Linked DNA regions of Homo sapiens: region 1 is linked to region 2. The links come from fine-mapping of genetic effects on gene expression. A gene starts in region 2. The other region holds a variant in brackets. All regions are shown on one strand. Distances are from middle to middle. Region 1 overlaps SLC22A4 (solute carrier family 22 member 4). Region 2 holds the start of SLC22A5 (solute carrier family 22 member 5).

Evidence for each region. PIP is the estimated chance that this variant, and not a neighbour inherited with it, causes the effect.
Region 1: its variant is fine-mapped to the expression of SLC22A5 in whole blood (INTERVAL, PIP above 0.99).

What each region holds. Positions count from the first base shown.
Region 1 is chr5:132,294,845-132,311,665 of GRCh38, forward strand. It overlaps SLC22A4 (solute carrier family 22 member 4), which reads left to right. Exons shown (of 10, transcript NM_003059.3): 1 at 1-165. It overlaps MIR3936HG (MIR3936 host gene), which reads right to left. Exons shown (of 8, transcript NR_110997.1): 8 at 16,432-16,821. Among named protein-coding and RNA genes, the nearest start is that of SLC22A4, 8.9 kb to the left of the region's middle. The variant T/A (reference allele first, on the strand shown) is at 7,787.
Region 2 is chr5:132,360,676-132,376,903 of GRCh38, forward strand. SLC22A5 (solute carrier family 22 member 5) reads left to right here and starts at 9,035. Exons shown (of 10, transcript NM_003060.4): 1 at 9,035-9,690. The coding sequence starts at 9,298. It overlaps MIR3936HG (MIR3936 host gene), which reads right to left and starts at 9,241. Exons shown (of 8, transcript NR_110997.1): 1 at 9,169-9,241; 2 at 5,893-6,106; 3 at 4,260-4,352. MIR3936 (microRNA 3936) reads right to left here and starts at 4,924; the gene lies at 4,815-4,924. RefSeq lists a silencer at 8,918-9,237 and an enhancer at 15,928-16,228.

The DNA.
Region 1 (16,821 bases), 66 kb before region 2:
GTGCCCCACAGCTGCAGCCGCTACCGGCTCGCCACCATCGCCAACTTCTCGGCGCTCGGGCTGGAGCCGGGGCGCGACGTGGACCTGGGGCAGCTGGAGCAGGAGAGCTGCCTGGATGGCTGGGAGTTCAGCCAGGACGTCTACCTGTCCACCGTCGTGACCGAGGTGGGTGCCAGGCCGAGACCGTTGACCCGGGAGTGCCTGACCCTCCCTCTGCGTCAGCCCCCCTTGAGACTCCCTGCGCAGTGCCCGGGTCAGCGCTCCCCTCCCCCTCAAACCTGCTGTTCATACTTCCAGCAGCGGGTGTGCACCCCAAGAAAGAATAGGACTCACGCGAGGCGCATTCCTGGGTCGTTTCTGTCCAATAAGGAGGTGATGGAGAAAGGAGTTTGTCACCAACTGTCTTTTCATTTCCGATTTTCACAACAAATGAAGTTTCCTAAGAACCTAGATGTTGCGTTGGGGGAAGCGCAGCCCCAGGCTACCCAGACGCACTGCCTGAGTCACCTTCCTGCCAGGCATGGGAGGAGGGGTGTGAGGGACCTTGTTACTGGGCAGGGCGGGGCCAAATCTTGTCTGTTCCCTGGCCACAGACTTCTGGAGGCATCAGGAGGTGTACTGCCGTACCATATACTTGTGAGGTTTGGGGTCCTTTCCTGAGGCCCCAGTTTCTCTAAGACAGCAGATGGCCTCCTGAGGCTCATTGGGTGCAAGGAAGCACAGAAGGCGAAACCCCAGCTGGAAGCCCTGGCCCTCAGGGACCTCTCTGAGCACAGGGTGAGTTGGCAGGCAGGGGCTGTAGCCCCTCAGCACCCTGCGTGGTTAGTGGCAGGTTTTCTAAGTTCCAGGAATGAGGATGCACACACACTTCTCCCGCTTTTGCTGCTTCACATCTGGTAAGGACCTGGGTCAGGATACACCTTTCTTCTGAGGAGAGCATCCTCATGGAGCTGTTGCCTGCTATTGGTCAGGCAGGTAGGATTTCCCTGCTGCTAGTCCCTCCTCTGCCTCATGCTCCTCCCAAGAAAAACCTGAGTGGCCTCTGCTAGTCCCTTATCCCTTTCCCTCAGCACGGTATAGCGGTCATCAGACATTGTGTCTGGCCTTGTGCTGAGCACTAAGGTGTGGACATCTGGTGTGTGGAGCCTACCCTCAGATGCCCATGGGGCACACTGGCTGTGTTACTGAGAAGGCTAACATTAACCCTGGTTAGCAATAGGGTTCTGGAACCCAAATTCAAGTCCTGCCTTGCTTGCTATGTGACCTGGGATAAATAAATCACCCTCTCTGTGGGACAATAGGTGGAGGAAATACTCCAAGAAGGGGTGATATGATTTTAGCTGATTCTGAAAATGTGAGCAAGACCTGTCTAGGCAAGAGTATGGGAAATTCAGGTAATGGAATTCTCATATATCGGAGTGGCTGGAACTCAAGGGATGACAGATATGACAAATGAGACTAGAAATGGCCACAAGGGCTAGTTCATAGTGGCCTTCTATGTATACTGAGGAGCTGACTTTATTCGGAGGACAGTGAGAAAATAGTAAGCATTCTAAGGCCAGGTTCGTGCTTTTGGAAAGAGCTCACTCTAGCTGCTATGATAAACAAGAAGACCAGTGAGGAAGTTTTGAAACTCTCCTCTGCAAGAGAATGGTGGCCAGCCAGGCGTGGTGGTTGTCGAATCTGTGGCACCTGTGGGAAGTGGGCTCAGCCCAGGGACTGCCTTTGGATCCCCCAGCATTGGCACCATACCTACCCTGGGCCCTAAGGTGGCCATGCTTCTCTGGATTTGCTTCCCTAGCAGGGGCTCTAGTGCTTGCCCACTCCCTGCCCACAGCATGGCCTGGGAGCAGCTGAGACTGGGGGCCAGCTCATCCCGCGTCGATTCCTGGAAGTGTTATCAGTGCCTGTTATGGAGGCTGGACCCATGAGTGGCAGCCTTCCCTGGCAGCTGGGCTGACCTGTCTGCTTTTCCATTGCTCGCTGGTTTTGTTCACTGTAGGGCGTGAGGGGTGAGTAGCTGCTGGCCTCCAAGTCCATAGCTACTCATGTTGTACGCTGTTCACAGGGACCTCTAAGGATGTACATCATCACACATTCACACACATGCACCAGGATTTGCTTTTTTTGGCAGCTTTTCCCTTCCTGGCTTCCTTTTTGAGTGGTGGAAGTAAAATAAAAAGCAACTAGGGGCTGGGCACAGTGGCTCACGCCTGTAATCCCAGTACTTTGAGAGGCTGAGGCGGGCAGATTACTTGAGGTCAGGAGTTTGAGACCAGCCTGGCCAACATGGTGAAACCCCGTCTCTACTAAAAATACAAAAATTAGCTGGGAGTGGTGGTGCACCCCTGTAGTCCCAGCTACTCGGGAGGCTAAGGCAGGAGAATCACTTCAACCTGGGAGGCGGAGGTTGCAGTGAGCTGAGATCACACCACAGCACTCCAGCCTGGGTGACAGAGCCAGACTGTGTCTCAAAACAAACAAACAAACAACAACAACAACAAAAAACTGGGCTCTGGTGGTTGGGAGGAGGAGGGAAGGAAGCAAGTACCAGGGTAAGCAGGATGGATGGATGGCTCTCCCCCAGAGGGGCGGCAGCACACAGAGTTCTGGAGTCAGACTCAGTAGAGGGCCAGTTTTGACTCCACTGCCAACCACCTGGCTGACTCCAGGCAGGTTACATCACTGATGAAAGCCTCAGTTTCCTTGTCTATAAATTGGGGGTACAAGCGATGAAAAGAGGCTCAACATCACTAATCACTAGGGAAATGCAAATGAAAATCATAAGGAGGTACCACTTTGTACCCTTAAAAATAGTTACTACAAAAAGAAAAAAAAAACACCCAGAAATCCACTTTGGGAGGCCGAGGCAGGAGGATTGCTAGGGGGCAGGAGTTCAAGACAGCACTGGGCAACATAGTAAGACCCCATCTCTACAAAAAATAAATAAAAAATTAGCCAGGCATGAGGGCATGTGACTGTAGTTCCAGCTTCTCAGGAGGCTGGGGCAGGAGGATCACTTGAGCCCAAGAGTTTGAGGTTGCAGTGAGCTATGACCATATCTCTGCACTCCAGCCTGGGTGACAGGGCAAGACCCCACCTCTAAAAAAGTGTTGTTGTTGTTTTTAAACACAGAAAATAACAAGTGTTAGTGAGGATGTAGAGAAATTGAAACCCTTGTTCATTCCTAGTGGGAGTGTAAAATGGTGCAGCCACTATGGAAAATAATGTGGTGGTCCCTAAAAAAATTAAAAATAGAATCACCATATGATCCAGCAATACTAATTCTGGATATATGTCTAAAATAATTGAAACAGGGTTTCAAAGAGATATTTGTACACCATGTCTATGGTAGCATTATTCACAATAGTCAAAAGGTGAAAGCAACCCAAGTGTCCTTCCACAGACAAATGGATAAACATAATGTGGTATATGCGTACAATGGACGATTATTCAGCTTTAAAAAGGAAGGACATGCTACAACGTGGATAAACCTTGAGGAGACTACGCTTAGTGAAATAAGCCAGTCACAAGACAAATTATTTTCTGATTTCACTACAGGAGTAGTCACACTCACAGAAGCAGAAAGTAAATGGTGGTTGCCAGGGACTGGAAGAAGGAAGGAGTAGGGAGTCGTTGTTTCATGGGTATAGAGTTTCAGTTTTGTAAGATGAAAGTAGTGTTGGAGATTGATTGCACAACAGTGTGAACGCTTCTGAACTGTACACTTAAAAATGGCTAAGATGGTAAACTGTATATTATGTGTACTTTATCTCAGTTTTCAAAATGGGGATAATAAGAGAAGCCACCTTATCTGAGTTGTTGGGAGGACTCAGTGAGATAATGCCCCATGCCCCATCCGGTGGTGGCCAGCACAGAGTGTGGCACCAGCAAAGAGTGTGGCACCAGCAAATGGGCTTCCTAGGTGGTGGTGAGGAGTGGTAAAGGCAGAAGCTCAGCACCTTCTTTGCCTTCTCCACTGGCTGGGGACAGTGGGCATGGTGGGAGCTGTTCTAAAGTCCAGGTTGTGGCCTGTGTAATAGGTGATGGGACTTGCTGGAGGCTGAGCCCCTCTCCCCACAGTGGCAGTTCCAAGCCTCAGAGAATAGAACACAAGTCCAAACCCATACTGACTTGGCCAGTGCCAGTGTACAGGGCCAAGCCCAGGGCCCCTGAGAAGGTTCTCTGCATCCCAGTTGGCACAACACAGGTAGTGGGACTGTCCTCAGATTGTGTCTTTGCCTTATACTGCCGTGCCAGGATCTCCCAATGGGCATATCTTTGGGGACAGACAAGTCTGCCTGAACTGCCCCCCAACACCTCTTCACAGGAGGACAGGGTTAGCCAGGAACCAAGGATGGCATGCTGTGCTGTAGAAATGCCTTTCATAGTATGCCAGGAGGTAGCAATAAGGTGTCTGAGTTGGGGTTTGCGTGAGTGCATTCGTCTGTGTGTGTACATGTGTATAAGGTAGTTTCCTTCTTCAGGGGTTGATTGTGAGGTCCAAGTTTTTCAACCTGTGCAGTTACTAAGAGTCAAATTATTTTTCGTTTTATTTTATTTTATTTTATTTTATTTTATTTTATTTTTTTGAGATGGAGTTTCTTTCTTCGTTCTTGTTGCCCAGGGTGGAGGAGTGCAATGGTGCCATCTCGGCTCACTGCAACCTCTGCCTCCTTGGTTCAAGCGATTCTCCTGCCTCAGCCTCCCGAGTAGCTGGGATTACAGGGGCCTGCTACCATGCCCGGCTAGTTTTTTGTTTGTTTGTTTGTTTGTTTTTTGTATTTTTAGTAGAGACAGGGTTTCACCATGTTGGCCAGGCTGGTCTCGAACTCCTGACCTAAGGTGATCCACCTGCCTCGGCCTCCCAAAGTGTTGGGATTACAGGCGTGAGCCACCGCGCCTGGCGATTATTTTTTAACTTTATTTTGAAATAACTTTTGATTTAGAGAGAAGTTTGAAAATAGTACAGAGATTTCACATATACCCTTCATCTAGCTTTCTCTGATGTTAACAATTTAAATACGCGTTATGCATTTATCCAAACCAGGAAATTAACATTGGTTACAATAGTAATAACTGAACTACAGACTTTGTTTGGATTTCACCAGTTTTTCTACTACTGCCCTTTTTCTATCGTAGGATCCCATCCAAAATCCCATGTTGTATTTAGTTGTCATGTCTCAGTCTCCAATCTGTGATTGTTCCTTAGTCTTTCCTTATCTTTCATGATCTTGACATTTTTATGAGTATTTTGATGAATGCTCCTCAGTTTGGGTTGGCATGATTTTTCTCACAATTAGATTGCGTTATGCACTTTTTGGTAATGATACCTTAGAAGTGATGCATTCTCTGGGCATCATACCAGTGGGTACATGATGCTGATGTGTCTTATTACTGGTGATGTTAACCTTGATCATTTGTCAAGTTGGTGTCTGTGGAATTTCTCTGCTGTAAAGGTACTATTTTTTCCTCTGTCACTAATAAATATCTTAAGGGAGGTTCTTCGAGATTATACAAAATCCTGTGTCTCCTCAAATTTTTATTCACTGATTTTAGCATTCATCACTAGGTCTTGACTGAAACAATTATTACTGCAGTTTGCCTAGTGATGATTTTGCATTTTCTGATTCCTTCAACATTTATTAATTGGAATTCTTCTGAGAAGAAGAGCTTCCCCTCCACATCTATTTATTAATGTATGCAATTGTTAACTTATATCAGTACAGGTTCATACATACTTATTTTATTTCATCAGTTATAAACTAATGCTATCCATCTTTATTTTGTTGCTCCAGTTATTCTAGCTCAAACCAAGTTATTTTTCACTTTAAGGATAGAGAATGTAGATATCCAGGGTAAGGGCCTTTATCTGTCTCTGCAGTCAGGGCTAGAGGAGTCTGTGTTTACCCCTGCGGGAGGAGTGCCAGTCACAGCTCGTTGCTAAGTTTTCCATCAGGCAGCAGTTGAGCAGGAACGCAAGCAGGGACTGGTGGGACCTGGGTTGGGACTGAAGCTTCTGTTGGGGAAGGAAGTGCCCCAAGCAACCCAGAGTGTCTGATGCTGGGGTCCTCATCCCTGAGACCTACTGCAGGGGTCAGATCTCAGTCTCCATGGGCATGGCCCTTCATATATAGCCCTCAGGGCCAAGACCTCAGAGAGAAGAGGCCCTGCGTGTGAGGAAACCCGGCAGCCTCCTGCCCTGAGGCTAAAGGAGCAGGAAGGGCAACAAATGCTCTGCTCTGGAGAGGGCCTAAGTTCATCTGCAGGGCCACAGGGCAAGCAGCAGAGGCAATCCTGGCTCGTGGCCAGGGGCTAAGCATGGGCTGGCCTTTGCCTCAAGCATGTCCTCTTCTCCCATGGAGCATCATTAGGGTCTTGACCTTCCCATCAGTCCATGGGCTGGGAAAACTGAGGCAGTCACCTCTAAGCTGGATACCACTTCTGCCAGGTCTTGTGCTCCAGAGGCCCTGGGGGAACCTTGTGTGTTAAGGACCAGCCTTCTTTGCAGGCCACCAGTGATCTAAGACAGGGCTGCTGCCACACCGTAGATCCTCCTGTCCTCTTCTGCAGCTGGGCTGCCTCCTCTAGGAACCCTAGTGGAGCTGCTGGTAGCCCACTGGTAGTGGAGTTGATGGAGCCTCCAGCAAAGGGCCTGGACCTCTGGTGGCACTAGCCTTGTGCTTTCCTGGGAACTGGGGTCAGGGCCTGAACAGCAGTAGGACTTACTGATTCCCCACCCATAACCCAGAGGCGAGCCAGGTTATGTGGCGAAGGATAAGGCCTCTTCCCCTGCTAACGGGGAACTTCTGGGAGGCACTGAGAGCAGCAAGCAAGGGAATAATGAAACAGACTAACCCTCACATGCGGCTGCCACTATGTGGGACTTCACATAGCGGCTCTCAAGGATGCACCTCCCCTGGGGTCTGGGTAGGCCCCGACAAAAGGGGAAAACCTTCCGTGATAGGCAGGTTTGTGGAGTTTCTATCAGGCCTGCAGGCTGCCCTGGGACATTGCTCACGGGTGTGGAGACTGTCAAGATAGCCTGAATATTAACCAAGTTGATCATCCAAGTCCATACTCAGACCTGCCCTCTGGCAGATTCCAAAGGGGATAAGGTGTGGGGGCCTCTGGCTCCAGCCAGCCCGGCGAGACTTCTATTTCCAGTCAATGCTTCAGAAAGTAGATCTTGCCAGAGAGCACATAGAGGAGACTCAGGGGCTTCCCCTTGCTCTGGCCTGAATGTGCTTCCCTGTTTGTTTATCAGCTGCCTCACCCCAAACTGTTTGCCTCTCTGCTGTGTTCCTCTGACAACAGCCACCAGGATCTCAGAATATGCTTTTGTTCAGAGGCTGCTTCACCTGCACCTCCTGCCAAGTTTCTGGATAAACAGACTTTGTCCATCCCTCTTGGTGGGCAGCAGAACTCTCAGACAGAGTCCAAGGTGGCATTTTGACAAAAACAAGGCTTTGACAGGACTGGTCAGGGGGAGCTGCAGGTACCTTGGGCCTCTAGAAGGACTGTAATTCCTCCCTTATGGCAGGCTGCATTCAATTTAGGTGTAAGACTAATACAGGTGTGCCTTGTTTTCTAAAGCTGTGTTGTGGTTTTATGCATGTCTCTGGAGTCCAAAAGAAAGGCAAGGATCCCCATTTGGAATGAAGAAGGTGTGGAGAGAATGGACGTTCTGGGGAAAGGCTGGAATGACCCACATGCTCTAGCAAGAAGCACAGACAGTCCAAGGCTGGTGGCTCCTGCTCAGCATTTGCAAGACTGGAGGGCAGGT[T/A]CAGGCGGCAACTTCCAGAGCTTCCCCTCAGTGCTTGGTGACTGGCACAGACACGATGCCATTTGCTCATGTTCCCCTAATACAGACTGGTAGAGCTGTGGTGGATCCATTGTCAGGATGCAAGGGGCACAGCCAGGTCCCTGAGTGACCCTTCTCCTTCCCACAGCCCCTCCACTCCCATCCCTATCTTCCCACTCACACTCACTGGTTCTTCTGCTTTGGTTTAGCCTCCAATGATCACAGAACTCATCAGTGAGGCTTTTCCATCTGTGGTAGCTTTTCTAATATAAAGAAAGAAAGATACTGAGAACATTTTAAGGCTTAGCAGCCTTCTGGCTTAGTTGTTTGTAAATGAAAATATGAGTAGAAGAATTAAACAGCCAAAAAGATAACCCACAAAATGGGAGAAAATATTGACAAATCATATATCTGATAAAGGATTTGTATCTAGAATATAAAAATAACTCTGATAACTCAGCAATAAAAAGACAACCTGATTTAAAAATGGATAAAATCATTTGCCCATTTTGGAGAATAGATGTTTTGCCAAAGAAATACAAATCAATTAGCACATGAAAAGATTCTGAGACTTCGAAGTTAGCAGTGTGAGGAGCGCCAGCGCCATAGACCAGCTCCTCAGTGAAACAGCCATAACTGGTGAAAATACACACACACACACACACATTTAGAGTCTCTGGAAGTTGTCCTAAGGGCATATATTTATTCAAGAAAGTCGACTATACCTTGGCAAGAACAGTGAAGTCTATGATATTTGAGTCATAACTCCTTCAGCCCTCCCCTTCCCCTTCCTCCCAGCACAAGAAAAATGGAAGTTCCACTCTAGGTGGGTATGGCCAAGAAAATACTGTTCTCTCTCCCATCAGCTTCCAAGGAAGGGCTACAGCAGCCCACCAAGAGGGACAACCAATGCCCATCCCCCACCCATCCCTGTATTCTCTTAGCTCCAAACCACAGAAGGTAAAATCCTCGTGAGTGCAACCAGGGGATCATAGGTTCCCATCCTCCACCCACCGCCTATTCATATAGTAGAGACTCTACTCCAGGTGCCACAAGTTGAGAATATTAGAGCCTTGATTGCCCTTATCCCAGCTCATTCATACGGCAGAGATTCCACACCAAGCTCCCACTTCCACTCAGTGTCTGACTCATAAAGTAGGGGTGTCATTCTGAGATAAATGGGCCGCTTTCCCTGCCTACCTCTCTACAACAGGAGCTCAGATATTTTGCCCAGCGGGGAGAGATAATCCAAAAGAACAGAGTTCTAAAGCTGTCCCCACAGGAACGAACTTTATTTGAAATAGAGTGTGTGAAAGGACAGCCTAAGATTGCTCTCAAGAACAATGGAGAATTTAGTGGTAAGCAACTAAAAGGATTCTGGTAACTCCATTAGAGCAACAAATGAACCCATAATGCAGCTAGTTTACCAGGAAAAAACAGAAAACAAACAAACAAACAAAACAAGAAAGAGACAGCTAAGAGCAGCCCTTCTGGAGTCAAAACAAACCTTATAGATTTGCCTCAAAAACTACCACTGCAAAGAGGCTTGACGTCAACTGGATTAGACTGTGGGACAATATATGCCCCCAGGGCATTATTGAAATGAATGAGGCAACTGGCTAGCAATTAGTGAGGCTAACAGCTGGGTGTGATACCAGCAGACACAGACAGCTTAATAGAAAGATCAGACTGGCGTGGTGGCTCATGCCTGTAATCCTAGCACTTTGGGAGGCCAAGGCGGGTGGATCACCTGAGGCCGGGAGTTTGAGACCAGCCTGGCTAATGTGGGGAAACCCCATCTCTACTAAAAATACAAAAATTAGCTGGGCATGGTGGCAGGTCCCTGTAATCCCAGCTACTCAGGAGGCCGAGGCAGGAGAATTGCTGGAACCCAGGAGGTGGAGGTTGCAGTGAGCCGAGATCATGCCACTGTACTCTAGCTTGGGCAACAGAGTGAGACTTCATCTCGGAAAAGAAGAAGAAGAAAGATCAGGGAAATGGGGGTGGAAGAATGTGACAGTACCTAATTTCTACAATATATTATCTAAAATGTCCAGTTTTTAACCAGAAATTACGAGATATGCAGAGAAACAGAAAAATATGACCTATACATGGGGGGAAAACGTGGGCAACAGTAACTGCCTGAGAGGGTCCACATGTCAGATTTTAACAGACTTTAAGGCATAAGGCAGCCATTATAAATATGTTCAAAGAATGAAAGGAAGTCATGCTTTTAAAAGTATGATGACAATATTGCATCAAATAGAGAATAGCAATAAAGAGAGAAAAATTACATTTATATTTTTAAAAGCTGAGCCAGACATGATGGCATGTGCCTATAGTCCCAGTTACTCAGGAGGCTGAGGTAGGAGGATTGCTTAAGCCCAGGAGTTCAACCCCAGCCTGGGCAACAGAAAGAGACCTTGTCTCTTAAACAAACAAAACAACTGAATAGAACTTCTGGAGTAAAAGTATACAATAATTGAAATTTAAAAGTAACTCAAGGGCCTTAACAGAAGATTTGAACAGGCAAAAGAAAGAATCAGCAAACTTGAAGATAGAGGATTGGAAATTATGCAATCCAAAGAACAGAGAGGAAAAAGGGAATAAAGAAAATGTATAGAGTCTCAGAGAAATGGGGAACACCATTAAACATAGCAATATATGCATAATAGAATTACTAGGAGAGGAGAGAGAGAGAAAAGGGCAGAAAAAATGCTCAAAGAAATAATGACTGAAAACTTCCCAAATTTGGTGGAAAACATTAATCTACACCTTTCAGAAGCTCAACAAACTCCAAATAGAATGATCACAAAGAGATCCACACCCTGATATATCATGGTAAAACTGCTTAAATAAAAAAAGAGACAAAAACGAAGGGAAAATTTTGAAAGCAGCAAATATATGACTAGGTACATACAAGAGAACTCCAATAAGATCAACGTTTGACTTCTCATTAGAAACCATAAAGGACAGAAGGCAGTGGAGTGGCATATTCTAAGTGCTGAAGGAAAAAAGAAACTGTCAACCAAGAATCATGCATCCAACAAAACTGTCTTTCAAAACTGAGATAAAGAAATTCAAAAATACACAAAACTTGAGAGAATTGTTTCTAGCAGTGATGTCTTACAAGAAATATTAAAGGAGGCACTTCAGAAATAAATTTAACCAAAAATTTGCAAAATGTATACTTTAAAAACTATAAAATGTCATTGAAAGAAATTCCAGAAGGCCTTAACAAGTGGAAAAGCTTCCCATGTTCTGTTCATGGAGCAGAAGACTTATTGTTAGTATGGCAGTGCTCTCCAAATTGATCAATAGATTCAATGCAAAAGATGTTCAACATTAGTTATTAGAGAAATGCAATCAAAACCACAATGAGATACCTCTTTACACCCACTACAATGACTAAAATTAAAGACACACAATAACAAGTACTGGTAGGAATGTGGAGAAATTGAAACCCTCATTCATTGCTGTTGGGATTGTAAAATGGTGTAGCCACTTTGGAAAGCAGATTAGGAGTTCTGCAAAAGGTTGAGTATATACTTACCGTATGACCCAACAATTTCACTACTATGTATATACCCCAAAGAAATGAAAACATGTACACACAAAATGTTGTACATGAATGTTCACAGCAGCATTATTCATAGTAGCCAAAAAGTGGAAACAACCCAACTACTTATCAACTGATGAACAGATCATTGAAAACGTGGTAGACCCAAACCGTGAAATATATATATATATATATATATATATATATATATATATATATATATATATATATATATAGTTGTTGTTGTTGTTGTTGTTGAGATGGAGTCTCACTTTGTTGCCCAGGCTGGAGTGCAGTGGTGTGATCTCAGCTCACTGCAACCTCCACCTCCAGGCTCAAGCAACTCTCCTGCCTCAGTCTCCCAAGTAGCTGGGATTACAGGCACGTGCCACCGTGCCCAGCTAATTTTTGCATTTTTAGTAGAGACAGGGTTTCACCATGTTACCCAGGCTGGTCTTGAACTCCTGACCTCAGGTGACCCACCCGCCTCGGCCTCCCAAAGTGCTGGGATTACAGGTGTGACCCACCGCACCCAGCCCAAACCATGGCATATTATTAAACCATAAAAAGTAATGAAGTGCTGATACACTGCACAATGACATGGATGGACTTAGAAAAGGAGCTAAGTATAAGAAGCCAGTCATAAAACACTATATATTGTATGATTCCATTTATATGAAATGTCCAGAATAGGCAAATTCATAGAGACAGAAAGTAGATTAGTGGTTTCCAGGGGCTAGAGGAAGTAGCGAATGAGGAGTGACTGCTAACAGGTATGGGTTTTCTTTCAAGGGTGATGAAAATTCTAAAATCAGATCATTGCTGATGGTTGCTGAAGTCTGTGAATATACTAAAAATGATTGATTTGTATACTTTAAAAGAGTAAATGTTATGGTGTATAAATCATATCTCAATAAAGTTGTTACAAAAAAGTAATTAACTAGCCATGTTTGTTTTTGTTTTTCTTTGTTTTGTTTTTTCATATTGTCAAGGAATTCCCAGCTTTAAGTCACAATCAAGTGACAAAGATAGAACTGGGGTGGATGTATAGTCCATTATTAACTACTACTTCTTACTTTTCTCTAGAATAAAGGATAACTATGAGAGGATACTATAGAAATCAATCTTTTATTCTTAAAAGGACCATTGCTAATTTTTCACTCACAGTCATCTCTGGGATTGAATTCCATTTATCAAATCCCTTTTATAAGAGCTTTTCTAGCTTTTAGTAATGGACTGGAATAATTTTTATTTCTTAGAATTTCTTTCTCTTAGTCAGATTTAAGTGTAACCTGCTTTGCTTATTCGTCCATGTGTTCCAAGTCATGATTTTGCTCAGGACAAATAAAATGCTCTACTAGTATGAGCCTGGTAGAAAGGGAACTACCATTTAATGAGGCCTGTAATGTGTCAGACGCTCCACTGATATTTCCCATCCAATGCACACAACAAACCTAGGAGCAGGTATTATTGTCATCTTTTTGAAGGTGAAGAAGCAGGCTAATAGAGGTGAATGGATTGCCCAACATCACACAGTCCAAAGTTGCAGACCCCGAGAAAGCCTGTGTTCTTTGCTGAACACCAGGCTACCTTCCAGCGTTCTCAGTTCCGTGCAGGTCAGACGGGGTTCACTTATCTTTATGGTCCTTTATAGCTCTGGTAAAAACTAAAACTGCCAGACTTTGGCTACTTGGAGAGTTAGTTCAAGGCTGAGGGTGATTTTCCAAGTGCAATGCGTGATACTCCTCAGCCCAAGAACCACATTTTCCAGGCTGATTTTCTATGACTCCTAATTAATTGTTCAATATTCATTCAACAATTTGTTAAGCACCCACTGTGTGCCTAGCACTGTGCAAACACTAGTCATCTAAAATATGATTATACGGATTATTCAGGTTTTAGAACTCTGTCCTTCTGCTGGAGGATGGTGAGGAGGGGGTGCCTCTTTCCTCTCTAGCCAAAGAGCAAGGGTGAAGTGGCCCAGAACAGCGCCCACCCCACCCAGGGCTGCTGGCCTCATGCATGCACATGTGCACATCTGTCCTGTAAAGTATGCTTGACCTTGAGCTTTGTGAGGGCAGGGACCATGTCTTTCTTGTGCCCTACACAGAGCCTGGCCTGGAGCAGGTAGGTGCTGAATGTCAGTTGAATCAATGATTAAGCAATTTTTTTTTTTTTTTTTTTTTTTTTTTTTTTTTTTTTACCAATTCACTAGGAGAACTTGGGCTGGTTGCTTTATTGCTCTGTGCCTTCATTTCCTCATTTGTAAAACAAGGATAAGAGTACCCATCTCACATGCCAACCCTGAGATCCCCTGAGATAATACACGGCACTCAGTGAGCACTCCACACACTGTTACTGTCTTTCCCATTACTCCCTTTACTATAGGGAGCCATGGGAAGCGGCACATCCTTCTATGCCAAGAGTGACCTCCTATCCCCTATTACCTTGTCACCTGGATTTTTGTTTCTTAAATTAGAGCTGAAGGCCATGCGGCCCAGCTAAATGGAGCTCACTCTGCTCTGTTGTGAGAACCTTGGTCTGGGACCCTGCTGATGGGACAGACATAGTAACCCCGGGAGGCCCCATCAGAGGGGCAGGGAGAGGGGAGGTAAGCTATGTTTCAGAAATGTTAGGATTTGACTTGAAAGCACACCCCCAAAGCAATGCCAGCCAGCTCCTTACCAGGACATCTGCCATTAGCCTCTGAGCTGGTCATGTGTATGTATGTGTGTGTGCATGTATGTACAAACATGTGCAGGGACCCACAGGGACAGGTCTGTCCCATCAAGGAAAACACTGTCTCCCACTGGGCCCGCCATGTCACTGTTAACCACAGGGAGGTTTTGTGGCCCTGGCTAGCGGAGACCCAAGACATATCCCTCAAACCTGAAGGGCCCAGGGGCAGGCAGGGCCGGTTTCCTAAGAAAAGCCTTTTCTAAAGGACCCCTCTTAGGACTGGCAGCTGATTTACTGGACTCTAGCCCTTCGCTCCAGGTAGAACTTCATCTGCCAATCCTGTGTCCTAATACCAGGCCCCTCACAGCTTTCCAAAAAGACACTTGCGGCACCATAACTCCCCAAAGGAGAGCCCAGCCCTAGAATCAACCATGGGCAGCCATGCAGTCTAGCTGCCTTCCCCTGCTGGTTGTAAGCAGGGTCTCCAAAGGCAGATGGCACCCCTCATGGGCTTGGGGCAAACGGCCACTGCGTGTGCATGGCTCTTCCTGTGCTGCATGATGCTGACAGGGCTTCTTGGGCCCCTCTTCAGGGAGGGAATGGGACCGAAAGCCATCGATGCAGAGCCTACAGGAAGGAGAATGATGGGAGATGGCCCTCACCTCACCCCCCTTCCCAGTGTCCCCATTCAGAACTCCTGCATCTGCTTCATTTCCTGGAGGCCAGGTTTGATCCCCTGCCAGGGCCAGCTTCATGGGCATGCAACTGTGCAGTCACACAGAGCGCCACACTTGGTTTCAATGCTTTGCCATTGCTGTATTGAAATTCTTAATAATTTTTGACCAAGGAGTTCTGCATTTTCAGTTTGCCCTGGACCTTGCAAATTAAGTAGCCAGTTCCCAGTCCTACCCTTTGCTCATGCAATGCCTGGCTCCACATCTAACAGCCTTCCATTCCTTTCTATCTCTAAATCCTATCTATCCTGCCCTAAGGCAAAGTCCAGACAGAAAAATATTTGACAGACTACAAAGGAGAGCACATTATATTTGAAAGAGCTTTTCTGCTCAACTGCAGATGGAATGATGATGGTTGGCATGTTAATGCCTCTACCAATCTTGAGTTCTTCTTGGCTCAGTCTGAGGCTAAAGGCTGTGATGGAGGCCTTCTACTCCTAGTCCTGGGTAATTGTCTCCTGGTATCACATTCCTTGAAGAAGTGTAGGGCATCATATTTAATAAGCTCATTTTGTCCTGCCTTAGGGAGTATAGGTCCAAAGCAGGACACTGGTACAAGATTGGGTTCTGAGGCCCAAGTAGGTATCTATCATGCTCATTTACTTGCTATGACTTCAGACAAATCCCATTCTCACAGTCTCAGTTTAATCTTCTGCAAAATGGGTCACACCACATCATGAGGCTTTGGGCCTCAATTGCTCATCTCTCTAAGTCAGAAGCAGAACCCAAGCTTTTATCTGAAGCTTTGGACAATTATTTTTGGAGGGAGATGGCCATGAATGCAGGCACACGTCCTGTTTACCACTTCCGGTCTATGGACTGGCAGAACACATTAATCTGGCCATACAGTTTTAGAGGATTCATTTCCCTTTCTCCTGAAGCCCATGCAAGAGCCCCAGGCGAGGCAATCCTGCTCTGGGTACAGTCTGAGATTTATCCTTGGATTGTGCCTGAGCAGCAGAGCGCTAACTTCCTGGCCCGAGTTGTTTTTCTTCTGCAGAGCTGTGTTGGGCGTTGCCTGTGGCCAGCATTTGAGCACTGTGACAGGCGGCCTCATGAATCTTGCTATTGTCTCTAGGACAGGACTATTCTCGAGGACATTATCCTCAGCATCACAGAGTGGCTCCTTTGTGGAAGAAGTACATAGGAGACACTTCTTTCGGATCTCAGTATTCAGAACAACTGTGCTTCTGCGAATAAGCAGACTACTTCGGATACTGTAACCCTTCTGAGAGCTGAGCTGCTGGGATACGCAGAGCCAGTTTTGGAGCCCCGTCTGGCAAGCAGGCAGGCCCGTGGACAGGATAGTCTAGGGTCAGTCTTACCCCAGGCTTGGTTTTTGCAACTTCCCTCCTCTTTATTTTCCATTTTCCCCAATTCCCTTAGCTTTTTGTTTTACATTTTTCTCTTGTGTGTGTCTTTATAAACACCTCTGTCTGCTGCAGAATAAGGTGTGATATAAATATGTGAGTTTGTGCTTAAATCCACCACACTTTCAAGGGAGTTGTGAGGATTCAGAAGGAATTGTTTGGCGAATGCAGTAAAAGCAGCCCCATCCAAGATGGAGCTAGGGCTGGGTGGGAGGCAGGGGTCTTTCCTCCAGACTGGATCATCTCGCCACAGACAGCAGCCCCCAAAACCCAAGCCCAAAGTGCTCATTGGCATCTGTTTGTTTATTTATTTGTTTTTAATAAATGAAAGGTCACTAAACACACTTTGAAATTTTTGTCACCTCCCTTGAGATGTTGCTTAATTGACTTAAGTCAAACTGAAACTCTGGCTGAAACTCATTTTGTAGATGCACTGGCAGGGACTTGTTAGGGCAGCAGCATCCCACAGACCCTAGGGAATGGGAGGGACCACACTTCTGGAAAGACTGGATGGGAAGGAGGGTGTAGGGATGTAGGAGGGGAGCTAGGGAGCCCTGGAGAGGAGTAAGTAGGCCCCAGAACGATGGGGCCCCGAATCAGGCCACAAGCTTGGCCTAGGCGTGAGTGGACCAGGGACCACATGATTTCTCAGAGGGGCCTGCTCAGAAAATAAAG
Region 2 (16,228 bases):
ACCATGTTAGCCAGGATGGTCTCGATCTCCTGACCTCATGATCCGCCTGCCTCGGCCTCCCAAAGTGCTGGGATTACAGGCATGAGCCACTGCACCCAGCCAAAAAAAATTTTTTTAAAGAGAAAGGTCTTGCTATGTTGCCCTGGCTGGCCTCAAACTCCTGGGCCCCAGCATCTTCCTGCCGCAGCCTTCCAAGAAGCTGGAACTATAGGCACATCCTCTGACTTTTTGTTCTGTGTGAGCAGGAGTCCTCAGTGAATTGGATGATGCCTGCCCACATTGGTGAGGGCGGACCTTATTTGCTCCGTCTACTGATTCAAATGCTTGTGAACCTCTCCGAACACATCCTCACAGACACAGACACAGACACAAATAATGTTTTACTTGCTATCTCATAAAATTAACCATCATGCAGACAGACCAGACCTCTAATATGGACCTACCACATGCTAACTATAGCAACTGGGTAAATTACTTTACTTCTCTTTTGTTTCTTTGCCTGTAAAGTGAAGACAAGAATATCAATCGCGTAAAGCTATTGTGAGGATGAAATGAGGTCATGTACTATTGTTAGTATTATTCTTGTAATAATACAATAGCAGAGCAAATTGATACTTGCCCAGGACCTCCTAATTTCTGCCTTAACCTGGCATCTAGCTTAGAACACATTAACATAGTTAATAACTTATATTATCCAAATTTAACTCAGCCAAGACCTCCTGATCTCCTTCGATGGAATTTTACTCTAAGATGACTGTATTCCCTAGGGAAACCTATGTGTTCCTATATGACTTCTCTCCTGGGTGATTCTGTCCAGACCCATGGCCTTAAATACCATCTATATGTGAATGATTCCCTAATTTATATCTCATTCTGATCTCTTTTATGACCTTCAGACTCATATATCCAGCCGTCTATTTGACATTTTGACTTGGATGTCTAATAGACATCCCAAAATTGCATTTAAAATAAAACTCTTGCACAGGCAACAAAAGAAAAAATAGAAAAATTGGGCTACATCAAAAATGTAAAACTTCTGTGCGTAAAAGGATATAATCAATAGTGAAAAGGCATAGAATGGGAGAAAATATTTGCAAATCATGTATCTGATAAGTGGTTCATATCCCAAATATGTAAAGAACTCCTACAATTCAACAACAACAAAAAAAAAACCTGATTTTAAAATGGGCAAAAGAGTTGAGTAGACATTTCTCCAAAGAAAATATATAAATTGCCAATAAGCACATGAAAAGATGCTCAACATAATTAATAATTAGGGAAATGCAAATAAAACCACAATGAAATACCACTTTATACCCATTAGGATAGCTTCTGTAAAAAAACAAAAACAAACAAAACAACAACAACAGCAAAACCACAGAAAATAACAAGTATTGGCGAGGACGTGGAGAAACTGGAACTCTTGTGCACTGTTGGTGGGAATGTAAAATGGTACAGCTACCGGGGAAAACAGTATGGCAATTCCTTAAAAAAATTAAACATAGAATTACCACATGATCCAGCAATTCCACTTCTGGGTATATACCCAAAGAATTAAAAGCAAGTACTCAAATAGATACTTGTACATACATGTTCACAGCAGCATTAGTCACAACAGGCAAAAGATGGAAGCAACCCAAGTGTCCATCAGTGGATGAATGGGTAAACAAAATGTAGTATACATATATAATGGCATATTATTCAGTCTTAAAAAGGAAGGAAATTCTGACATATGCTACAACATGGATGAACCTTGAAGACATTATGCTAAGTGACAATAAAAGCGAGTCACAAAAGGACAAATACTATGTGATTCCACTTATGAGAGTGGTCAAATTCATAGAGACTTCTGTATTATAGAAGGGTTTTCGGGGCTAGGGTAAGGAGGGGAGTGGGGAGTTAGTGTTTAATAGGTACAGAGTTTCAATTTTGCAAGATGAAAAGAGTTCTCTACAGATGGATGATGGTGATGGTTGCACAATGTGAATGTACTTAATGCCCTTAAGAGTGGTTAAAATGGTAAATTTTATGTTATGTGTATTTCACCACAATTTTTAAAAAGCAAAAAATAAAAATAAAAAACTCTTAATTTCCCAAACCCCCACCCCATCAAATCTCCCCATTTCAAAAACAAACATGAAAAGCTATAAAGTTGCTCAGGCTAAAAATCCAGGAGTCATCCTTAATTTCCTTCCCTCATGCCCACATCCAATAGTAAATCATGTCACCTTTTTCCTCCAAAAATATTCTGAATTCATCCATTTATCTCTTCCACAGTTACCACTCTAGTTCAGGCCATCATAAGCTCTTGCCTATAATGCTGCAATGCTTTCTAATCAGTCAACCTGCTTTCATTCTTGTCCTCTACAGTCCCTTCTCTATATAGCAGCCAGAATGTTCCTTTTATGCTAGAAGTAAGACCTTATGCTTTTCTCTGCCTGAAAATACTCTGATAGGCCAGGCACGGTGGCCCACACCTATAATCCTAGCACTTTGGGAGGCCAAAGTGGGCAGCATTCAAGACCAGCCTGGGCAACATGGCAAAATCCCATCTCTACAAAAAATACAAAAATTAGCCAGGTGTGGTGCGTGTAGTCCTAGCTTCTGGGGAAGATGAGGTGTGAGGATCACTTAAGCCCAGGAGGCAGAAGTTGCAGAGAGTCAAGATCATGCCACTGCACTCCAGCCTGGGTGACAGTGAGACCCTGTCTCAAAAAAGAAAAAATATTCTGGTAGTGTTCCATCTAGAATAAAATCCAAACTCCTTGCCACTATCTACAAGGCACTAGACAATTTGGCTTCCATAAAAACTGGCCTCCTGCCAATGTCTCTGACTTATGTTCCAACATTACTCACTTTGATCACTATGTTCTAGTCACGCTGGTCTTCTCTCCGTTACTTAGTCACCCCGAGCACATCCCTTACCTCACAGTCTTTGTACTTGCTGCTCTTCTGCTTAGTACACCTGCTTCCCAGATCTTCACATGACAGATTCCTTCTCGTCCTTTGCCTCTCAGCTCAGATATCACTTTCTCAGAAACATGTTCACTTACCATTCATCTAAAGCAGCTACCCAATGACTGTCATTCTATACCATTACTCTCTTTTCTTTCACCTTGGCAATTACCACTACTTGAAGTTTGTATTTATTTGTACAAGTTTATTGTCAGCCTCTCCATCCTCCAAGTAAAATACGAGCTCCATGAAAACAGATAGCTTGTTTCTTTCCTCAGTTCCCAGAACTCGGAACAGTGTTTGGCACACATCAGTCTATTCATATGTTTGCCAAATGAACGAAGAAGTAAAAACCACTAGTGACCCAATTTTCCTGCCATGTCATATATATACATAAAAGTCTTTTGGGAAAACTCATATTTCTATATTGGCCCTCACTAATGTCTTTTCCATCTATTCTAGAATGCAATAACCAGTCTTTAAAATGCAAGCAGAATATTTCACATTTCATTTTTGCAGGTATCTCTGAGGGGAATGAATTTACATTTCTACTACCACAAATAGGATGGTCAAGTTTGTTGCAATGCAAAATTTTTTCTGTGGAATTCAAAAACTGTCCTGTACCTCTTGAAGCCGAATTGTGGGGTTTCACATTGGAAATTACACTCATCTAAAGAAACAGTCTGGACATTTAAGTCCTTAAACAGTTGTTCAAAGTATTTTATTACATACTTTTTCTAGTCTTCAGAATGTTTCAAGGTCCATTGTCTTCATGGCTAGTTACCTGTCTGTCCAGGCCAAACAAACTGGAGTTAAAATGCAGAATCACATAACAGCAGAAATGTGATTTCTCATTCTATTGTGCAATCCAACAGAATTGTGCCAAGTCTTGCTAGGCTGACGCTGCTCTACTCTGCCCAAATGCCAATATGCATTGGGGTGATGACATCCCACTTGGGATATTGTCTGATGACACAGACAGACTTCTCTGTTTCTCCACTCTTGGGTCATATAATTCAATGTTCTGGGGCTGAGGCAAATAATGTCTTACAGTGATTTTGGCAAGAAAAAAACAGCTATTTCAGATTTTGTTCAAGTTCCCCTAGTCATGTCAGACCCCATTGACTTCAGTAGGGATGGCACCATGTTCAAGAGGCTGAAGAAGAGACCTAGAACCAGAAACTGAGACATAAGGTTTATTGAGGGGACTTACAATACAGGGCAGTCCAGTGGCAGTGGGCTGGGCAGGAGAACCAAAACTCCTTGTAAAAAGCATGCAATTGGCCAGGCGTGGTGGCTCATACCTGTAATCCCAGCGCTTTGGGAGGCTGAGGCAGGTGGATCACCTGAAGTCAGGAGTTTGAGACCAGGCTGACCAACATGGGGAAACCCTGACTCTACTAAATACAAAAAATTAGCCGGGCCTGGTGGTGGGCACCTGTAATCCCAGCTACTTGGGAGGCTGAGACAGCAGAATCACTTGAACCCAGGAGGCGGAGGTTGCAGTGAGCCGAGATTGCACCATTGCACTCCAGCCTGGGCAACAAGAGCAAAAACTCTGTCTCAAAAAAACAAAAACAAACAAAAAACACCATGCAGTTTATATAACATTTTTACTTAACACCTTTCCCCTAGCAACCTCCACCAGGCAACCTTCATTTAACCTAAAACAAAGGGCTTTGATCGCCTCGTAGGGCCTGCATTCTACAGGATGGGCTGGGGGTGGGAGCAGTTCAGAAGTTCGTCATAGATAAGAAATGAAATATCTGGGTTGGCCACTCCCAGATTCCTTAGCTTGGAGCTCTGAACACACATTCTTCTTAGACCATAGGGTCATTCTTCAGGTATGCATAAGTTATTGCTGCCAAGTGCATCTGTCGGGTGCATCTGCCATACACCCCTTACCAGAAGCGTCCAAACACGGATTTGAGGGATCTACAGCAGACACTGGACAGATGCTCTGAATCATTCTCTACTCTGATGCTGAAGCTATAATATTGGACTAAGCTTGGGCCTTCTACTCTTTTCTTTCTTTCTTTTTTTTTTTTTTGAGACGGAGTCTTACTCTGTTGCCCAGGCTGGAGTGCAGTGGCGCGATCTCGGCTCACTGCAACCTCCACCTCCCAGGCTCAGGCAATCCTCTCACCTCAGCCTCCTGAGTAGCCGGGACTACAGGCGCGTGCCACAATTGGCTAATTTTTGTATTTTTAGTAGAGACAGGGTTTCACCATGTTCCTTAGGCTGGTCTCAAACTCCTGACCTCAGGTGATCCACCCTCCTCAGCCTCCCAAAATGCTGGGATTACAAGTATGAGCCACCGCACCCAGCCTATTCTTTTCTTAAAGGAGGAGGCCTTCCCTTCCTCAGGCAAGTAATTGCTGACTACTCCAGCCTACATAACGTCCAGACATATCCAAATCTGTGGAGAACACAAAGTTCTTAAGGTATTTATTTAGAGTCAATAATCAAAGTAAAACTAATAATTATAGCTAATATTTAGTTTGTAGTTAATATATGCTAGGAGCTCGAGCTAAGCACTACCATCCCAGGAAACTGAGGCTTAAAACACTTTTAAAATTTGCTCAAGCTCACAAGCTTGGAATTGAAGAAGAAAGCAATTGAATATTGGTCTTTCTTCTATCATACATCCAGAGGCTCTGCACTTAATCAATACAACATACTGTCTCTTATTGCACAAGTAACTACAAGGTTCATCTGTAAAATTCTATTCTGTAGAATAGAAGGGAAAACAAATTAAGGAATTACAGATGTTTATTCTTCTGAGCTTTAATTTAACGTATTGTTTGATTCAAATAATTTATATATTAGCTATCTATTGCCACATAACATAATACCTCAAAATTTACCATTTTAAAACAACCAACATTCATTATTTCTCAGAGTTTCTGAGGATCAGGAATCTGGGAGCCACTTAACTGAGTGGTTCTGGTCCAGAAGACTCTCATGAAGTTGCAGTCAAGCTGTCAGTAGTCATCTCGACACCCAACTGATGCTGAAGGAGCTACTTCCAAGCTCACTCAAGGTTGTTGGTGGGCCTCAGTTCCTCATTAAATGTTGGCTAGAGACTTCATTCCTTGACATCACATGGACCCCTCAAAGGGCTGCTTATAACATGACAGCTTGCTTGTCTCTGAGCAAGAGAAAGGGAAAAGAACACCCATGATGGACATCTTTTATAATGTAATTACCCAAGTGATATAAGTATCATCACTAATGCTGTATGCTTTTGGTCACATAGACCAATCCTGGTACAGGGATCATTCATTGGGTGCCATCTTGGAGGCAAGCTACCACATCTGCCAGGGTATGAATGCATTTAATCTAAAGTTCTAGCCCTGAACTGTAGGGTTATCTACCATATAAATCAGTTTTACATTTTTTAATATGTAAAATAGGAACATCCCAATTCAGAATATTGCAGGATAAAGGGCCTCAGGTAACTGATTAAGATTCTAAGCTCTCTTTCTCTTTTAAAAGATGAAATTTAAGGCTGGGTATGGTGGCTCCTACCTATAATCCCAGTACTTTGGGAGGCCAAGACGGGGGGATCACTTGAGGTCAGGAATTTGAGACCAGCTTGGCCAAAATGGCAAAACCCTGTCTCTACCAAAAATACAAAAAAAATAGCTGGGTGTAGCGGCGCGTGGCTGTAGTCCCAGGCACTTGGAAGGCTCAGGTGGGAGGATTGCTTGAGCCCAGGAGGTTGAGGCTGCAGTGAGCCAAGACCACCTCACTGCACTCCAGCCTGGGTGACAGAAGGAGACCCTGTCTCAAAAAAAAAATGCAATTTAAATAGTAATGGCATTCAGATAGTAATCACAGTGCACCTGGAACTGGACGGCACCATCTTAGGTTGCTCTCTGCTTTGCGCATGTGGACAAGCCATCTATGACAAATAGTTTCTTTTCTTCCTAAGGATATGCAGCTTCTTTTGTAGTATACTGCATTGTTTTCAGTCCCTTTCAGGAATGTTATCTGATGCCCAACTGATATTTCTCAAATGTTAAAATAAGACTTCTTCATCTTGTTTGGTCTGGACAGAGGTCAACATTCTTCTCATAAAAGCTTTCATTTCTTTTGAAGCATTAAAATAATATTTTAGCACACAAAAAAGGAGTTTATTTTCAAGAAGCTTTGCTTTCTTTTTCAGTTAGTTCTAGATAAGAACTATAACTTCACATAAGATGTTAGAAGGATTTAAGTACATTGCTGAAGGTATAACCATCCATCTTCAGGAAGTAAGAATAGTGAATAGTAAGTATAAAGAAACAAACAAGTCCTGTGATAACATCTTTATCATAATTTTTTTAAGTCTATTATGCTTTATGCAAATGTTTAGATTTCCTTGTTAAAAATCTGCTGGCCAGGTTAGGTTCCCTTTCTGTAGCTTTATTTTCAACTCATAATATAGTGACTATTAAATATTCTTTACTCAACACATTATATTGTAAAAATATACACTTAGTTCTGTTTCTATCACTAAGCCACTACTATTTTAAAAAGGAATATCTTGCATTGTTAAGTTTAGCAGCCCAAATTCTTAAAGGCCTTAGGAATGGTGCTGTCCAATAAGATAACCAATAGCTACATGTGGCTACTGAGCACTTAAAAAATGAGTCTGGCCAGGCATAGTGGCTCACGTCTGTAATTCAGCATTTTGGGAGGCTGAGGTGGGAGGATTGCTTAAACCCAGGAGTCTGAGACCAGCCTGGGCAACACAGGGATGCCTTGTCTCTGTAAAATAAAAAAAATAAAAAAATTAGCTGGGCACGGTGGCATGTGCCTGTAGTCCTAGCTACTCAGCAGGCTGAGGCAGGAGGCCCACTTAAGCTTAGGAGTTCAGGGCTGCGGTGAGCTATGATTGTGCCACTGCACTCTAGCCTGGGTGACACAGTGGGACCGTGTCTCCAATAAATAAATGAATAAATAAATATTAAAAAATAAAAAGTGTGGCTAGTCCAAATTGAAATGTGCTGTAAAATACACACTGGATTCCTTTTTTTTTTTTTTTCAAATCCTGAGAACCTGTGAAACACACTGAATTCTTAAGATTTAGTATGAGGAGGGGAAAAAAAGATCAATGATTTACATATAACAATGTAAAATATCAATAATTTCTATATTGATTATATGATGAAATGATCATGTTCTGGATATACTTGATTAAATATACCATTAAAGTTAATTTCATCTTTTATTTTTACTTTTTAAATATGCAGCATTGCCCAATAAAATACAGGACAACCAGTTACATTTTTATTTTATATATTCCTGCTTGGGACATAATATTTAAAAATTATTCATTCTATATCTGAAATTCAAATTTAACTAGGAGTCCTATATTTTTATTTGCTAAATCTGGCAATTTTATTAATATGGCTACTAGAAAAGTTAACATAACAAATGTAGCTCCTTATCCTATGGAACATTGCTGCTTTAGAATCACCTCGCTGCTTTTTTTTTTTTTCCAGTTAGCTTCTGAATAAACTCTGCACGGAAATAACTAATCTGTGGGGAATATTTAACCCTAGGCTAGGATCGTTAATCGTGAAGTTAAATTTTTACATCTGCATGAACAAAATGGCTTGTTACAGACGAAAATGTGGAAAGGGCATCTGGACTAGAATGAAAAGTCATAGCTCCCAGCCTCTCTACTAGGGTAGTTAACAGTCCCAGGTTCAAAATAATCCCCGTCCCTCTTATAAGATTAGGCGGTGTCAAGAGCAACTATCTGTGAGACCCTGGGCCAGTGACTTTCTCCTTACCTCCGCCCCCAAGTAGGCCTTGCAAAAAGCTGGGAGGGGTGCGTTTTCAACACTGGAGCTTCGCGGCCGCTCTCCCACTCGCTCCCCGCCCGGCGCTAGAGGAGCGAGTTCGGACTCGGACCCCAAGGCCTCGAGTCCCGCTGCCTTCCTAAGCCGAGCCCGGGCTACCTCGGTCGTCCCCAGCAGGCTTGGCTGGCAGAGGCCGGGCCTCGCCAGGTCCCCAGGACAGGCCCCGCCCGGGCCTCAGGTGCACTCCCGGCCCGCCCCGCGCCCTCGCGTCCCGCCCCAGCTCCGCCTTCGCCGGCGCCGCTCTGCCTGCCAGCGGGGCGCGCCTTGCGGCCCAGGCCCGCAACCTTCCCTGGTCGTGCGCCCTATGTAAGGCCAGCCGCGGCAGGACCAAGGCGGCGGTGTCAGCTCGCGAGCCTACCCTCCGCGGACGGTCTTGGGTCGCCTGCTGCCTGGCTTGCCTGGTCGGCGGCGGGTGCCCCGCGCGCACGCGCAAAGCCCGCCGCGTTCCCCGACCCCAGGCCGCGCTCTGTGGGCCTCTGAGGGCGGCATGCGGGACTACGACGAGGTGACCGCCTTCCTGGGCGAGTGGGGGCCCTTCCAGCGCCTCATCTTCTTCCTGCTCAGCGCCAGCATCATCCCCAATGGCTTCACCGGCCTGTCCTCCGTGTTCCTGATAGCGACCCCGGAGCACCGCTGCCGGGTGCCGGACGCCGCGAACCTGAGCAGCGCCTGGCGCAACCACACTGTCCCACTGCGGCTGCGGGACGGCCGCGAGGTGCCCCACAGCTGCCGCCGCTACCGGCTCGCCACCATCGCCAACTTCTCGGCGCTTGGGCTGGAGCCGGGGCGCGACGTGGACCTGGGGCAGCTGGAGCAGGAGAGCTGTCTGGATGGCTGGGAGTTCAGTCAGGACGTCTACCTGTCCACCATTGTGACCGAGGTGGGTGCCGGCCCCTGCTGGGGCTGAGACCAGGGCTCGGAGGACCTGTCGCGGTCCTTGAACCCGAGCTCCTCTCTCCCAGATGCGCACTGGACGCTGTCACTCCCCCTCCCCCAACGGTCAACACCCTAGCGATGGAGACCCTCCAGCCAGGTGGCTTGGGAACGCTTCACGAGGTGACCTCCAGCCACAGTGTGCTCCTCCCTGCACAGGTGGTCAGTCTGGCCTCCCGTCCTGATGGCCACTTTGAAGAGGGTACCAGGAAGGTCCTGGCGGTCCCTGGGCGATGCTCTATGGCCCTGTGTGTCCAGGACTTACTCTAGTTGGGGTTGGGGGTGGTAAGTAGCAGAGCCAGGACTTGGGCCAGGGGCTATCCCGTTTTTCCTCTAGTCTCTTGATTTCTTTTTAGAAGAGAAGAAATACTTCTCTTTCCTGAACTTTTAAAAGTTAAATAAAGCATGTGTATACAACTGCCTCTTCCCTTTTTCCTCTAGTTACTCCTTCCCCTACCGTCCACAACCCAAAAACGACAATCTGGTCATGCCCTGTAAGTAATTGTTTGCCTTTTCCCATGGTCAGTTGTCAGTCTTTTTTTTTTTTGAGACAGAGTCTCCCTCTGTCACCAGGCTGGAGCGCAGTCGTGTGTTCTTGGCTCACTGCAACCTTCGCAGTCGTGCGTTCTTGGCTCACTGCAATCTTCGCCTTCCGGGCTCAAGTGATTCTCCTGCCTCAGTCTCCGAGTAGCTGTGAGCCACGACGCCCAGCTAATTTTTGTGTTTTTAGTAGAGACGGGGTTTCACCGTGTTGGCCAGGATGGTCTCGATCTCTTGACCTCGTGATCTGCCTGCTTCTGCCTCCAAAGCTGGGATTACAACCGTGAGCCACCACGCCAGGCCGTCAGTTGTCACTCTTTAAGATCCATTCATCTGAAGATGGGTTCAGGGTGACTTGTTGACCTGGAATATTTTCTCAGGTATTATGAGGCAAGGCTGTCGGCCAGATTTAGTTAAAGCATACAGCCTTAGGTCATAGGGTGTAGGGGAGCCTTTCTCATTTCTCATCCCCTTGGATTTTCCCTCTGGGTGGTTTTGTCTGTCCCCTCCGAACCTGTTGGAGCAGTTGTTGGAGCTGGATGTAGGAACATGATGTTAATGATGTATGTGTTTTGTGTCTTTTTTAGACACTGGCACTCTAGCTCCCTGAAGTTTCAGCAGCATTGAGTAAGTAGCCAGTGAATAGCCCTCATTGATAGATAGGCTCACTAAATGTGCAGATGACCAATTCGCAGGTTAGAGAAGGCTTCCCAGAAGAGGAGGCCTCTCCGTGAGCCTAGGGTGTTCAGCTCAGCATAATAGTGAGCTGAAGGCCCCAGTGCAGCAGCAAGAAACCACCCAGCAGGACGGCGGAGTTCACAGAGAGGGGAGAGTTCATAGAGAGGGAGAGTGCCACAGGCCCTGGCACAGCTTCAAGCCCTGCTGGATGTTGGTGCTGAGCCTCCCCTCCTGGAGCCTCAGAGGGGCTTACAGGGGCTCTGGAGATCCCAACTGTGTTGCTTCTTGGCGTCATCACCCTTCAATGGAGTCTGAGAGCTACCCTGGGAGATCCAAGTGTGTGTGCATGTGTGTGTTTTTTCTTTTTGGAAATTTGATGTCCCCAGCATTTGGACCTGCTTTCTCCACATATATGTAGTGGGAGTGTGACCGGAGCCCCACTGGGATTTCTTAGCTAGTGACATAGCTTCAGTGTCCAGAGGCATCATGGCTTGACAAAAGAGGCACTCCTTGGAGGTAGCCAACTGTGCTTTCTGGCCCATGAATCCACAGGAAATTGGAACCTTCAGTTGCCACAAATCCTGGGTCCTAGCCTCACAGGTGGGTGTGTTACCTTCCCGGAAGCCAGTGAGTACTATGAAAGCAGAGGCTGTCCCTGAGGTTGCAGGCAGAGGCCACAGAGGGGAACATGACACAGGAATCCCTACAAATTCTACTTGGGGCTGCCTAAAGAAGAGGGAAGTAGTGAAGCAAGAAGAAGCACATGGCATCTCTTGGAGTTTTACATTGACCCCTGAGGGTTCCCCGGCTTACTCTAGTCACTTGTTCCTGCTTTGCTGCCTCCATCCCACATTGGGCTGAGTGATGGTGGCATTGATGAGCTCCCAAAGGCCAGCTGTGCCAGGGGGTCTGACCTTATCTTGCTGCCAATGTCAGCCTTTTGTTTTTTAATATTTAGACTATTTATTTAGCTGTCTTAGCAGTTTCAAAGGAGTTATGTGCCCTTTCACCTACTTATATGTTGTCAGTCTTTGCAGGGAGGCCAGATTAATGCTTAGATCTTTGTTTTGGGCTACTGGAATGCTTGACTTGAAGTTCAGAGCTGCTTGTTCCCAGGTGAACAGCTACTGCTGGAAGTTGCTGCATCAACATTCTAATGGCTTTTTCTATGGCCTGTTGTCTTTCAACCCAAACCTGGCCTGCTGACCACTGCATCTAGTCCCATGCCTGCTAAATGTCTCTAAGCCTGCCCTCTGCCCCAAATCATACATAAAGGTGTTTGTAAGTACACTGGTATTGAATTACTAGTCATATTTTTTCCACTGAAGACTGGAACCTCAGGTGTCCTGTTTGGATTTTTTTAATTTGTTCAAGTTAAAGTACATACATGTAGTACCAAACTTTGTGGTGGATTTAGATCTTTGCGTCTTCCTCAATTTCTGACACAATTCTGGATGCAGAGGGAGGTTCTCAGGAAAATTTTTATTGAATGAGTTAATGAATAATTTAAGAAATCATCTCTAAAGTTTGAGAACTAAAGAAAAATAGTTCAGTTCTTAGAAGGGAAACTTGAGGGTGGCTGAAAAGGATTGACTGGAATTTTTTAAAGGAAATGTGACTCCCCCTGCCCACTGACTGGGGCTTTGATGCCACATGGATGTGGAATGAGGTGTTGGGATTGGCAGAGGGAATCTGCTAGCAATTAATAAATAAATATTGGCAGGGCGTGGTGGCTCACGCCTGTAATCCCAGCACTTTGGGAAGCCAAGGCAGCAGGTCACTTGAGGTCGGGAGTTCAAGACCAGTCTGGCCAACATGGTGAAACTCCATCTCTACTAAAAATACAAAAATTAGCTGGGTGTGGTGGCACATGCCTGTATTCCCAGCTACTTGGGAGACTGAAGCAGGAGAATCGCTTGAACCCAGGAGGCGGGCTTTGCAGTGAACCGAGATCGAGCCTCTGCACTCTAGCCTGGGCGACAAAGCGAGACTCCATCTCAAAAGAATAATAATAATATTAATAAATAAAAATGATTTATGAGGTAAAAGAGTTTTATGCCCCCATGTTCCAGGAATAGTTTGGTGGTCCACATGGTTCTCGGCTGGCCTCTCCTCTGGCCCCTCAGTCATCCCTGGGGTACTGGGGAATTAGCCAACCCATCATGCAGTGCTTCTTGGCCATGGACTGCCCCATCTGCTGGAAACCTGGGTTGTTTCTGAGGTTGTCTGGGCTGTCCGCTCTTTGGTTTCACCATAGCTCTGTCCAGCCTATGGACAGACAGGTTCCTTGAGAAACTTCCGGCTGGGTGTGGTGGCTCATGCCTGTAAACCCAGCACTTTGGGAGGCTGAGGCAGGTGGATCACAAGGCAGGAGTTCGAGACCAGCCTGGCCAACATGGTGAAACCTCGTATCCGCTAAAAATACAAAAATTAGCCCTGCGTGGTGGTGGGTGCCTGTAATCCCAGCTACTCGGGAGGGAGGCTGAGGCAGGAGAATTTCTTGAACCTGGGAAGTGGGGGTTGCAGTAGCCAAGATCGCACCATTGCATGCCAGCCTGGGTGACAAGAGCAAGACTCCGTCTCAAAAAAAAAAAAGAAAAAGAAAAGAAACTTCCAAGCTGCTCTGCATCGCCTTGCTCTCCACCTGTCTGCTTCTAAGAAGCCCTCGGCCCAGTCCTGGGTGGGACTCCCACTCCCTCCCCATTGTCCTGGACTAGCTTTTCTATCAGCCTTATCTTGTGTAGAGACAGATAGTCTTAGAAGATGGGAGAGCCCTCACTGTTATCCCCAAAGCTGCCTGGAGGAAAAGCCAGAGCAACCTGGGAGCTGGGACCGGGGCTGACTCTGGGCAGCAGAGACCCGAGAGACCTGGAGCTTGAACCTCACTGTTACGCCTTTGTTGATTTCTCTCACTCAGGGGACACACAGACCCTCATCCAGCCTTTTGCAGCTATATGGCAAGGCAGAGAAGCCACTTGCGGGGTCCCGTGGCCCACTATGCACGTACATAGTAGACACATCTGGCCATGAGTGGTCAGATTGAGCCACTCTCTAGCTAGCTGACACCTGTAATCCTGGGTCAAATTTCTGACAGTTGACACAAAGCAGGGGGTCAGGGAGCCAAAAAAAAAAAAAATGGCCAGGTGTGGTGGCTCTTGCCTGTAATCCCAGGGCTTTGGGAGGCCAAGGTGGGCAGATAACCTGAGGTCAGAGTTCAAGACCAGCCTGGTCAACATGGCAAAACCCCGTCTCTACTAAAAATACAAAAATTAGCCAGGCTGGTGGTGCATCCCTGTAGTCCCAGCCACTCAGGAGGCTGAGGCATGAGAATCACTTGAACCCAGGAGGTGGAGGTTGCAGTGAGCCGAGATTGTGCCACTGCACTCCAGCCTGGGAGACAGAGCAAGACTCTGTTTCAAAAGAAAAAAAAGAGTATTCTGGAGATTGAAGTTCAGGAGTTCAGGGTTCATCTCGACTTTGGGCAGCCAAGCAAGAACTAAAGTATACCAAGATGTTGAAGGTTGATACCTTTTTATTTATCGATTCATTCACTCACCTATGTACCAAAGAGCTCCTGAGCCTCTCTTCTATACAGGGGGCACTGCCAGGAGTTGTAGAGGATGTGATAGCAAAGATAGGAAATACCTTTTCTCTTTGCTCTGACAACGGTGGGGCAAGGATTCATCATTGATTTCAGCAGGAGGCAGGATAAAATGTGTGTAGGAATATAGGAATACATGGCAATCAGTAACATGTGGTACCTAGCAGCATGTCTGACTGTTGATACGGTCAGGCTAGGTACATCCCCTCAGGGAAGAACTTCTGTCTTAGGGGCACACACCCTATCTTTTTTCCCTTCCTGCCAATTCACAGGTAAGAACATTTAGTCCCAGGGAACTATGTCATCTCTCTACTTCTCATAACTGAAAAAGCAGTGCCAATTATGTATGAGGTATAGGAGACACAATTCTCCCTCTTTTTAAAAATGTTTAATAGCTTTATTAAGGTGTAAATGACATAAAAACTGCATGTAGCTAAAGCATGCAATTTGGCACACATGTATCTCTACACCCTTGAAACCATCACCACTAGAAAGGTGCATTTCTCCCCAGGAAGAGGGGCAAGTCTAGGCCCTTTGCCAGAGTTGCTCCCAGATTGTTTTCAGGTTGGGCCTGCATTCACAGCTCAGCCAGCTGAAGGGTGACAGCATTAGACTCGTGACCCAAATCTTAAACCCACACATTCCATTTTAACATTGATACCTGTGATCATCAGCCAGTATAGCCCATCCCATGTGCCAGGCGGAGGCATCAATAAGCTGGTCTGTAGCAGCTTTAATCACAGCTGGGGAGCCAGGAGCTAAGGAATGCTAGACTCCTTTGTAAACAATTTAAGTAGGGGGTACTTAGCCTGGACTCTATGTGCTTCTCATCCACCTCTTCTCAGGGAGATTCTGGCCAAGTCCTGGAACCTACTGCAGTCCATCTGGTGGTTGACAGATATGTGGACGGATTGGCAGGCTGGGACCCAATCTATGTTTGCCCTTGTGTTCAGTTTTGAGACCTAGCACCTTTCCTGATCCTGCTCACAGACCCCCTGCGGCCAATAGGAAAGAAGTGTTAATGCATATTTGCTTTTGGAGGGCCCAAAGCCAGGCCCAGAGAGTTGTCAAGGGCGGTCAGTGGTGGGTGGATGGCAGAGTTAACCAAGGAGTTACACACCTGCCTAGACTAAGGACAGGCTGGACCAAGTAGAGAGGGTGGGGCTAAGGGAGCCTGAGAGATGCTCTGGGGCCTATCTCAAAATGAGCACTATAGTCACCCTGTCCCCTGCAGAGATTGTCTGACCTGGTTTTAGGTCACACCCAACCTTGCCAGCCAAGGAGTCTTTAGAAGCCTGATATTGGGAGACCTGTCCTGGGGTCTACAACCCCAGAACTCACTGCAGAAGCCCACGTGGATTGCTAGTCTAGCTCAGCCATATGGGTCCCCAACCCTCACCTCATGATAGTCCTGTGAGAAACCGCTGCTGACCCTTTGTTCATGTTTTCATCTTTTCCACTATAAAAGACATGCTAGCTGGGAAATAGAGCCCATCATACTCAAGAGTGGCAGGAGCCAGGTCCTGGCCCCTGAAGCTTGGCCTCACACACAGAGGCCGGCACCCTGTCATCAATTCCCTCAGCTTTTTCTCCGCCTCCACTCCCAGTCCTAGATTTAGCAGCCATGTGTGGGTGGGGGCCACTGCAGGGATACTTACCCACCTAC